Homo sapiens: one gene and its partner. Changing the gene in region 1 together with any one later gene gives a genetic interaction. Each region holds a gene or a part of one and is shown on either strand. Other genes may lie near its edges. The genes, in order: MYLK and MYLK2.

Region 1 (3,813 bases):
AGACCTGTCCTGGCCCGGGTGCCTGACCACTTTGCAAGGGGCTTTCTCGCCTGTACTTTATCATCTCCCCATGCTGAGCCCATCATGTTCACAGCTCTGAGCTACAAATAAGCTCTAGAGCTAAATGCCAAGGCTACTGCAAAACCCAATATGTACCCCATCCCCTTAGGTCCTTTGTGACCATGTGCTTTATACCTGAATCAGTTATCTTTTGCTGCATAACGAACCACCCCAATACTTAATAACTATTAAAAATAGCTCGTTTATTTTTAAAGCAGTTTCATTATTTCTTAGGAGTCTTTGGGTCTCCTATAAAGTTCTGCTGATTTAGGCAAGGCTAATCTCAGCTGAGCTCAATGACATGTCTGTTGTGGTCAAGTGATGGGATGCTTGTGAGCTGCTGGTCCCCCTACTATTATTAGCGGTACACTCAGAATGCATCAACTGCCTTTGCATTATGCTTGAACTAGTTATTACCAGGAAGGCCACTCTGCCTCCAAAATGGGGAGAAGGTACACGCTTACCCCCTAGGTCAGTACAAAGAATGGAAACCGATGATGTGTAAAAATACCTGCTGATGATCTCGTCAGTATAGAAGGAGTAGCACTTTGAGATAATACTTACATTACTCAAGCCAGACATCCTAGAGGAGATGAGCTTGTTTGGGGATTTTGATGGAAAAGGAAGGCTGAATCTTGGCAAATGTGATAAGGCTTAGCTGTTGAGTAGGCCGAGCAAGAAAGGGTGGGGTGGGGGCAGAGCCAAGCAAAGGGCTGTGGGAAGTTTGCCAGGCCAGAGAGGAGGCGTGCACCAGGAGGTCGGCAGGCAGACTGTCTGGGGCCAGCTGGGGACAGTCATAAAATTTAGACTGTCCCAGCAGGAAGGGGCTTCAGAAGTTATCCAGCCTCATCGTCATTTAATAACGGGGGACACTGAGGTCTCAGGGTCGTGGACTTGCTTGTGGCCATCCAAAGGCAAGTAACAGAGCCCAAGTTCAAGCCCTCATCTTTTGACTTAAATCAGATGCTCTTCCATTCCTTATGGCTCTGCTTGGGGAGTTTCTCCCAAGTGCACAGGGAACTGGAAGGACCTGGGAAACCACACTGGAGCCTCCAGCCTGCAGCCTTTGCCTCTTTTTCTTCCCCAAAGTCCAGCCTCTTCATTCCTTTCGGAGGCCACTGCCCTGGCCTTGGCTTTTTCCCCACCTGAGAAGAAGCAAGTCAGTGGAGAGTTTCCTGAGGGTACGTGGCAGGCCTGCCAGAGACCTCACTCCTCCAGCAACCTAGACGTAGAGCAGGGTGCCTTTCGAGGGGAATGACTGGATGGCTGGGAGGAAGCCGGGGGTCCGGTGTGCAGGGGGTAGAGGGGTGGGCAGATCCTGCCTGTCCCTGCTAGGATTGTGAGGCAGGTATGGGTGGGTAGTTTCTGCCTCTCTTCCCTTCCTAGCTCTTGTCTACTGTACCAAAAGGGGAAATGACAAAAAGTCAGCTCAAAATTCCAGCTGGAATACTTGAAACACTTGACACTTGCCAGGAAATTAGTTCTTTTTTATTTATTTTTTATTTTTTGACAGAATCTCACTCTGTCGCCCAGGCTGGAGTGCAGTGGCACGATCTTGGCTCACTGCAAGCTCCACCTCCCGGGTTCACGCCATTCTCCTGCCTCAGCCTCCTGAGTAGCTGGGACTACAGGTGCCTACCACCACGCCCGGCTAATTTTTTTTTTTTTTTTTTTTTTTGTATTTTTAGTAGAGACGGGGTTTCACTGTGTTAGCCAGGATGGTCTCAATCTCCTGACCTCATGATTCGCCCACCTCAGCCTCCCAAAGTGCTGGGATTACAGGTGTGAGCCACCATGCCCGGCCGAAATTAGTTCTTTAAAGTAATTTTTCCATATAGAACCCATCCAAGAGGTAGATGATTCAGGGTGGGACAGGATCCAAGGCTTTGTAACCAGAGTGGAACTCTTATTCAGAGCTTAGTAAGCCAAGGCAAAAGGACTCTTTGTGAAAGGTTCAGTTTATAGGATGATAGCCCCATATGCTCTGTGGCAGCTCCTGGGATGGGGCCTCATCTTCAGCCCCGGCCCTGATTTTGTAACTGGTTATGTGCAGATGTCAAAGATGGCCCCAAGACCCTGTTCCAGCAGCTTAGGTGATCTGACATGTGGGTCCCAGGCAGGAGGCCACTATGAACTTTATAGGCTGCAAATGAACCCATGGTTTGCTTTAAAGGCCCAGCAGAGATTTAAGGGTATGGCTGTAGGAATAGTTACTGCTATTGCCCTGCCACCAGGTGATCCACTTAATGCGTCAGCCTTTGTATCCCAAGTCCTCCACCTTTCTCTGACCCCTTAGACTGCTGGGGGCCACAGGGTAAGGCCTGGGGCTGGATTGGACAGGAGCCCTTGAGAGGCTTGTCTGAGTCTGTGCTCCCCACCTTGAGCACAGGTCATGGAAAGTGACAGAAGCCCTTACCTGCTTCCCCCATGGGGAGAATCGGCTTACTCCAGCTTGCGGCACAGGGCTGTCCACCACCAAAGCCTCAGAGGAGTCCAGCTGGGGTAAAGCCGCCATCTGGGCAGTGTCTGCTCCTGATGTTTGCATCTGGGCTGTGTTCTACTGGTGACAGGAGGAAACTCTGCTGAGGAGATGCTGAAAGGGCTGCCAGGCAAACACAGCCCTTGGGCATCTCATCTTCCTGCTCCATGTCAACCCAGGCACCACAAGGCTGTGCTTAAAGGTAGGAAAAGAGTGGCCTGACACTGGCCAGCAGCCTGGCAGAAGCAGGGTGACCTCACACAGTTATTCTACAAGCTCACCCAAAGTCCATAAGCCTTTTTAAGTGTTGAGAACTCGGGGCACACTGAGGACCTCTTCGTTCTCCCAGGGCCTGGCACCCATGAGGTTTCTAATTGCTGTTTGTTGAGCAAAGGAACAACCTGAACTCAAAATTCTCCAGACTTGAGACTCCCTGCACCTTGAATCTGTGCCCTCTGACAGTCTGAGCATTGAGGAGGGTGGCTGGGAGGGGACAGGCTATGGGATACATGGCCAGGGAGGAGAGAGGAGTGAAAGAGCTAAGGCAGTCAGGAAGGCACCTGCACCAGCACAGCCTGGGACAGCACGAGGGCACTGGAGAGAAGGACAAAGGAGAGGAGCCCAGCAGGCGGGAGGAGGGCTGGAGGACAGCAACGATTGGCTTCTCCTTGCTTCAAATGGGTGCCAGCACCCAAGGGTGAGCAGCGCCCCAGAGCCCCTGAGAATCCTGGGCCAGGCCATGGGCTACCAGTGTCTGTCCACTGGGAGGGAGGCCAGGCAGAGTGAGGTGGAGACCCACACACGCCAGCAGAATACACAAGAACGCATGCTCAGATGCCTGTCCAGGTGGATGTAACTCATATGTGCACATATTCCCAAACACAGACCTCCAGGTGCAGGTGCCTGCCAGCTAGACCAGTATATGTGTACATCATGTGTATGGTTGATAACTACATATGTGCATGAACACACACATGTCCCAGACCAGATTTGTACTGATAAGCACAGTAGGGTAGAGTGCAAAGGTCATAGGGTCACAGGTCCCAACCCCTCCCTCCACTAGCAAGCTCTGTGTGTTTAGGCAAATTACTTAACCTTGACCTTCAGTATTATATTTTTTAATAGAGGTAAGGTCTTGCTATGTTGCCCAAGCTGGTGTCAAACGTGCGAGCTCAAGCAATCCTCCCACTTCAGCCTCCCAAAGTGCTGGGATTACAGGCATGAACCACTGCGCCTGGACTACTTTACCTTTATAAGCCTCATATTTCTTACCT
Region 2 (3,228 bases), on another chromosome or scaffold:
TTATCGTTCCCTGGGCCGAGCACAGCCCTAAGTGCCTTACCTCAGTCTGACTGATGCTGCAGCCATGGCCCCACCCTATGAGGTAGATCCTAGCGCTGCCCACTCTCTCTGGCTCAGTTTCTCCCTCTGTAAAACAGGAATAATAATACCTGCCTCATGAGAATCACCTGAAGCCGGGAGGCGGAGGTTGCGTGCAGTGAGCATAGATCACACCACTGTACTCCAGCCTGGACGACAGAGTGAGACTCCATCATAAATCAATCAATCAACCAATCAATCCTGCCTCGTAACTTTGCTGTGAGGAGTAAATGAGTTAACACAGCACAGGCGCTTTAAGTAAAGCTGGGCACGCAGTAATCACACACCCGGTGTAGGCTGTTGCTGCGACCTCCCTCTCACAGGTGAGGATACTGAGGCACAACGTGCAGAAGCCACCTGCCCACATCATGTGCTGGGCAGACTGGCACCTGAGCCTGCATGAACCACCAAACTGTGAGCTGACGGATATTGCTAAAGTGTCCGGTACACAGTAGGTGCTCAGTGAACTGTGGTCATCAGCGACCTCACACCAGTGCAGGCACACACAGAGGGAAGGAGGCCACATCCAACCTGTACATTTATTTACAAGGCACAAGCTGAGAGCAGACTGGAGGCTGCCCCATGGCCTTCCTAATTCTCCTGGGCCTGCTGACCCCATCATCTGAGGCCATGGGTGACCCCCAAGATGGGGGCCCCGAGTGGTTGGGTTGGGCCGGCTTGGCCCTGAGGCAAGCTCGGGGGTGGTCTCCTGTGTCCCTTGGCTTCTCCCCTCCCCCTCCACCAGGCCTGGGCTGGGCGCCCTCTCTCTCACACAGAGTTCCTGTGTGTTGGTGGTCGCAAGGAAGGTGGGTGGGGGCCAGCCTGGGCCAGATGGTGTGGGCTCGGCCTTATCTGCTGGAGTGGGGAGGTGGCGGGGGCATGGAGGTCCTCTCTCACAAAGCCTGCTCTGTCTTCCCTGGCAGCTGGGCCTTAGGAATCAGCGTTGCAGCCTTTCTGCCCCACCAGGAGCCTCCCATCCACAACCACAGAAGCCCTACATGCTGAGACCCCCCAGCCATGGCACTCCAGCTAGGAGGAGGCCCAGGCTAAGGACTCTCCCAGTGGGGCAAAGCAGGGGTCACCACGGCGGCGGCAGTTCAAAGACGAGGAGCTGGGGAGGGAACCGGGAGCGGCTTCAACGGGGGCCTGGAGTCTGGGGTGTGGCCGACAGGCTGGAGCCCTGTCTGGGGAGGTGCTAGCAGGATGGATCCAGGCCACACTCCGAGGCGGCTCACATCGGGGAAGCGGTCACTGCATGGGGGCGTGGGGAGCCCCGAGCCTCCCAGCCTGGCACAGCCTTGTCCTAACGAGGCTGCCCTGGGGATCTGGCTGCCTTTTCTGGCCTTCTGGGCTGTGTGGCTTCAGCCCCGGCCACTGTGTGGCTGCGTCCAGGCTTCAGCTGCGCCCAGGGCTCAGACCCCCAGAGCCATCAGTGCCCCCGAGCTGCTGATCTTCTTGAAGCGGTTGGCAGCGCTGACAGCAATGAAGTTTTTCTAGAGGGCAGAAGAGAGGGAGTCCCAGTCAACACCAGGGCAGGGGGGCAGCTGCAGGGTGTCTGAGCAGCCTGTAAGTCCCCTTCAGTCCAGGAGGGTCACAGGCTAGAGAAGGTGCAGTGCCCAAAATGGCCACGGGAGGCGCCATGACACTGTATTGTCCAGGAGTCCCCTCACTCAACGGATAGGTCAGCCAGACCTGAACCAAGGACCGCTCTGCTCCAAACACTCCCATGGCTCCAGTTTTGCTCCAAGTAAAAGATAAACCCCTTGCCATGGCCGATGAGTCCCTCCAACTCCTGTCCCCCTCTTCCTCTCTAACTTCATTCCTTACCTCCTTGCTCACTCCACTCCATCCATACTGGCCTCCTACCTGTTCCTCAAACTCTCCAACCACACCTCTGCCTCAGGGCCTTTGCACTGGCTACTCCCTCTGCCCGGAATACTCTTCTCCCAGTATTGGCACGGCTCACCCCTCCCCACCTTCAGGTCTTTGTTCACATGCTTCTCAGTGAGCCCTTCCTGACCCCCCCTATTTAGAAGTGCAGGCTGGGCACAGTGGCTCACACCTGTAATCCCAACACTTCGAGAGGCCAAGGCGGGAGGATTGCTTGCCTGAGCAACATGGCGAGACCTCATCTCCACAAAAATATTTTTAAAATATTAACTGGATGTGGTGGCATATGTCTGTGGTCCCAGCTATTCAGGAGGCCAAAGGAGAGGATCACTTGAGCCCAGAAGGTCAAGACTACAGTGAGCCATGATAGCGCCACTGCACTCCAGCTGGGGAGGCAGAGTGAGACCCTGTCTCTAAAAAAAATAAAAATAAAAGTGCAACCTCTCCCCGGCAGAAGGCCCTTATTTTTTTTCTAAAGTCTTCTTTAACCCTGCCTATTTCCACAGGGCTCTAGAAAATGCCCCACCTCAGCCAGGCACAGTGGCTCACGCCTGTAATCCCAGCACTTTGGGAGGCGGAGGCAGGTGGATCACGAGGTCAGGAGTTCAAGACCAGCCTGGCCAACATGGTGAAACCCCGTCTCCACTAAAAATACAAAAATTAGCCAGGTGTGATGGTGGGTGCCTGTAATCCCAGCTACTTGGAAGGCTGAGGCAGGAGAATTGCTTGAACCTGGGAGGCAGAGGTTGCAGTGGGCCGAGATCACGCCATTGTACCCCAGCCTGGGTGACAGAGCAAGACTGTATTGAAAGAAAGAAAAAAAGATAGAAAATGCCCCATCTCTCACCAAAAGTAACTCCACAAAGACTGAGATCTTTGTCTCTTTTGTCCACTCCTATATCCCAATGCCTAGAAGTAGTAGATGCTCAAGAAATATTTGAAAAATGAAGGAGGGAAGCCAGAGCCCCAGATGGGTGGGGCTGGGTGGAAGGCCGGGTAGAGGTCTCCACTCTAGGACAGGAGCCAGCCCAGGGCAAAAACAGAAAAGTCAACCCTGTCTTCCGGACAGGGCCCAGCCTGGTCAACAGAACCTGCCAAGGCAGGGACGGTGGAGGCTGGGATCTGGCACCAGGAGCTCTTCCCACTAGCAAGCCCTCCCTCCCCACCCTGAATCCAGCGGTACCTTCCAGCGCCTCTTCATGAGGTATTTCTTAAGCAAGATCTGGGACTTAAGGCGTCGGTTACAGCGTTTGGCTTTCT

Evidence for each region.
Region 2: changes in MYLK (region 1) and MYLK2 together harm fitness more than expected from each alone (negative genetic interaction), as found in Homo sapiens cells (one large-scale study listed by BioGRID).

Annotation. Positions count from the first base shown.
Region 1 is NC_000003.12:123,702,673-123,706,485, reverse strand, and holds part of MYLK (myosin light chain kinase, smooth muscle), read left to right. Parts: intron 1-2,476; exon of another isoform or gene 2,477-2,620; intron 2,621-3,813. UniProt on the Homo sapiens protein: Calcium/calmodulin-dependent myosin light chain kinase implicated in smooth muscle contraction via phosphorylation of myosin light chains (MLC). Also regulates actin-myosin interaction through a non-kinase activity.
Region 2 is NC_000020.11:31,832,060-31,835,287, reverse strand, and holds the end of MYLK2 (myosin light chain kinase 2, skeletal/cardiac muscle), read right to left. Parts: coding exon 3,152-3,228; intron 1,572-3,151; coding exon 1,491-1,571; 3' UTR 604-1,490; downstream 1-603. UniProt on the Homo sapiens protein: Implicated in the level of global muscle contraction and cardiac function. Phosphorylates a specific serine in the N-terminus of a myosin light chain.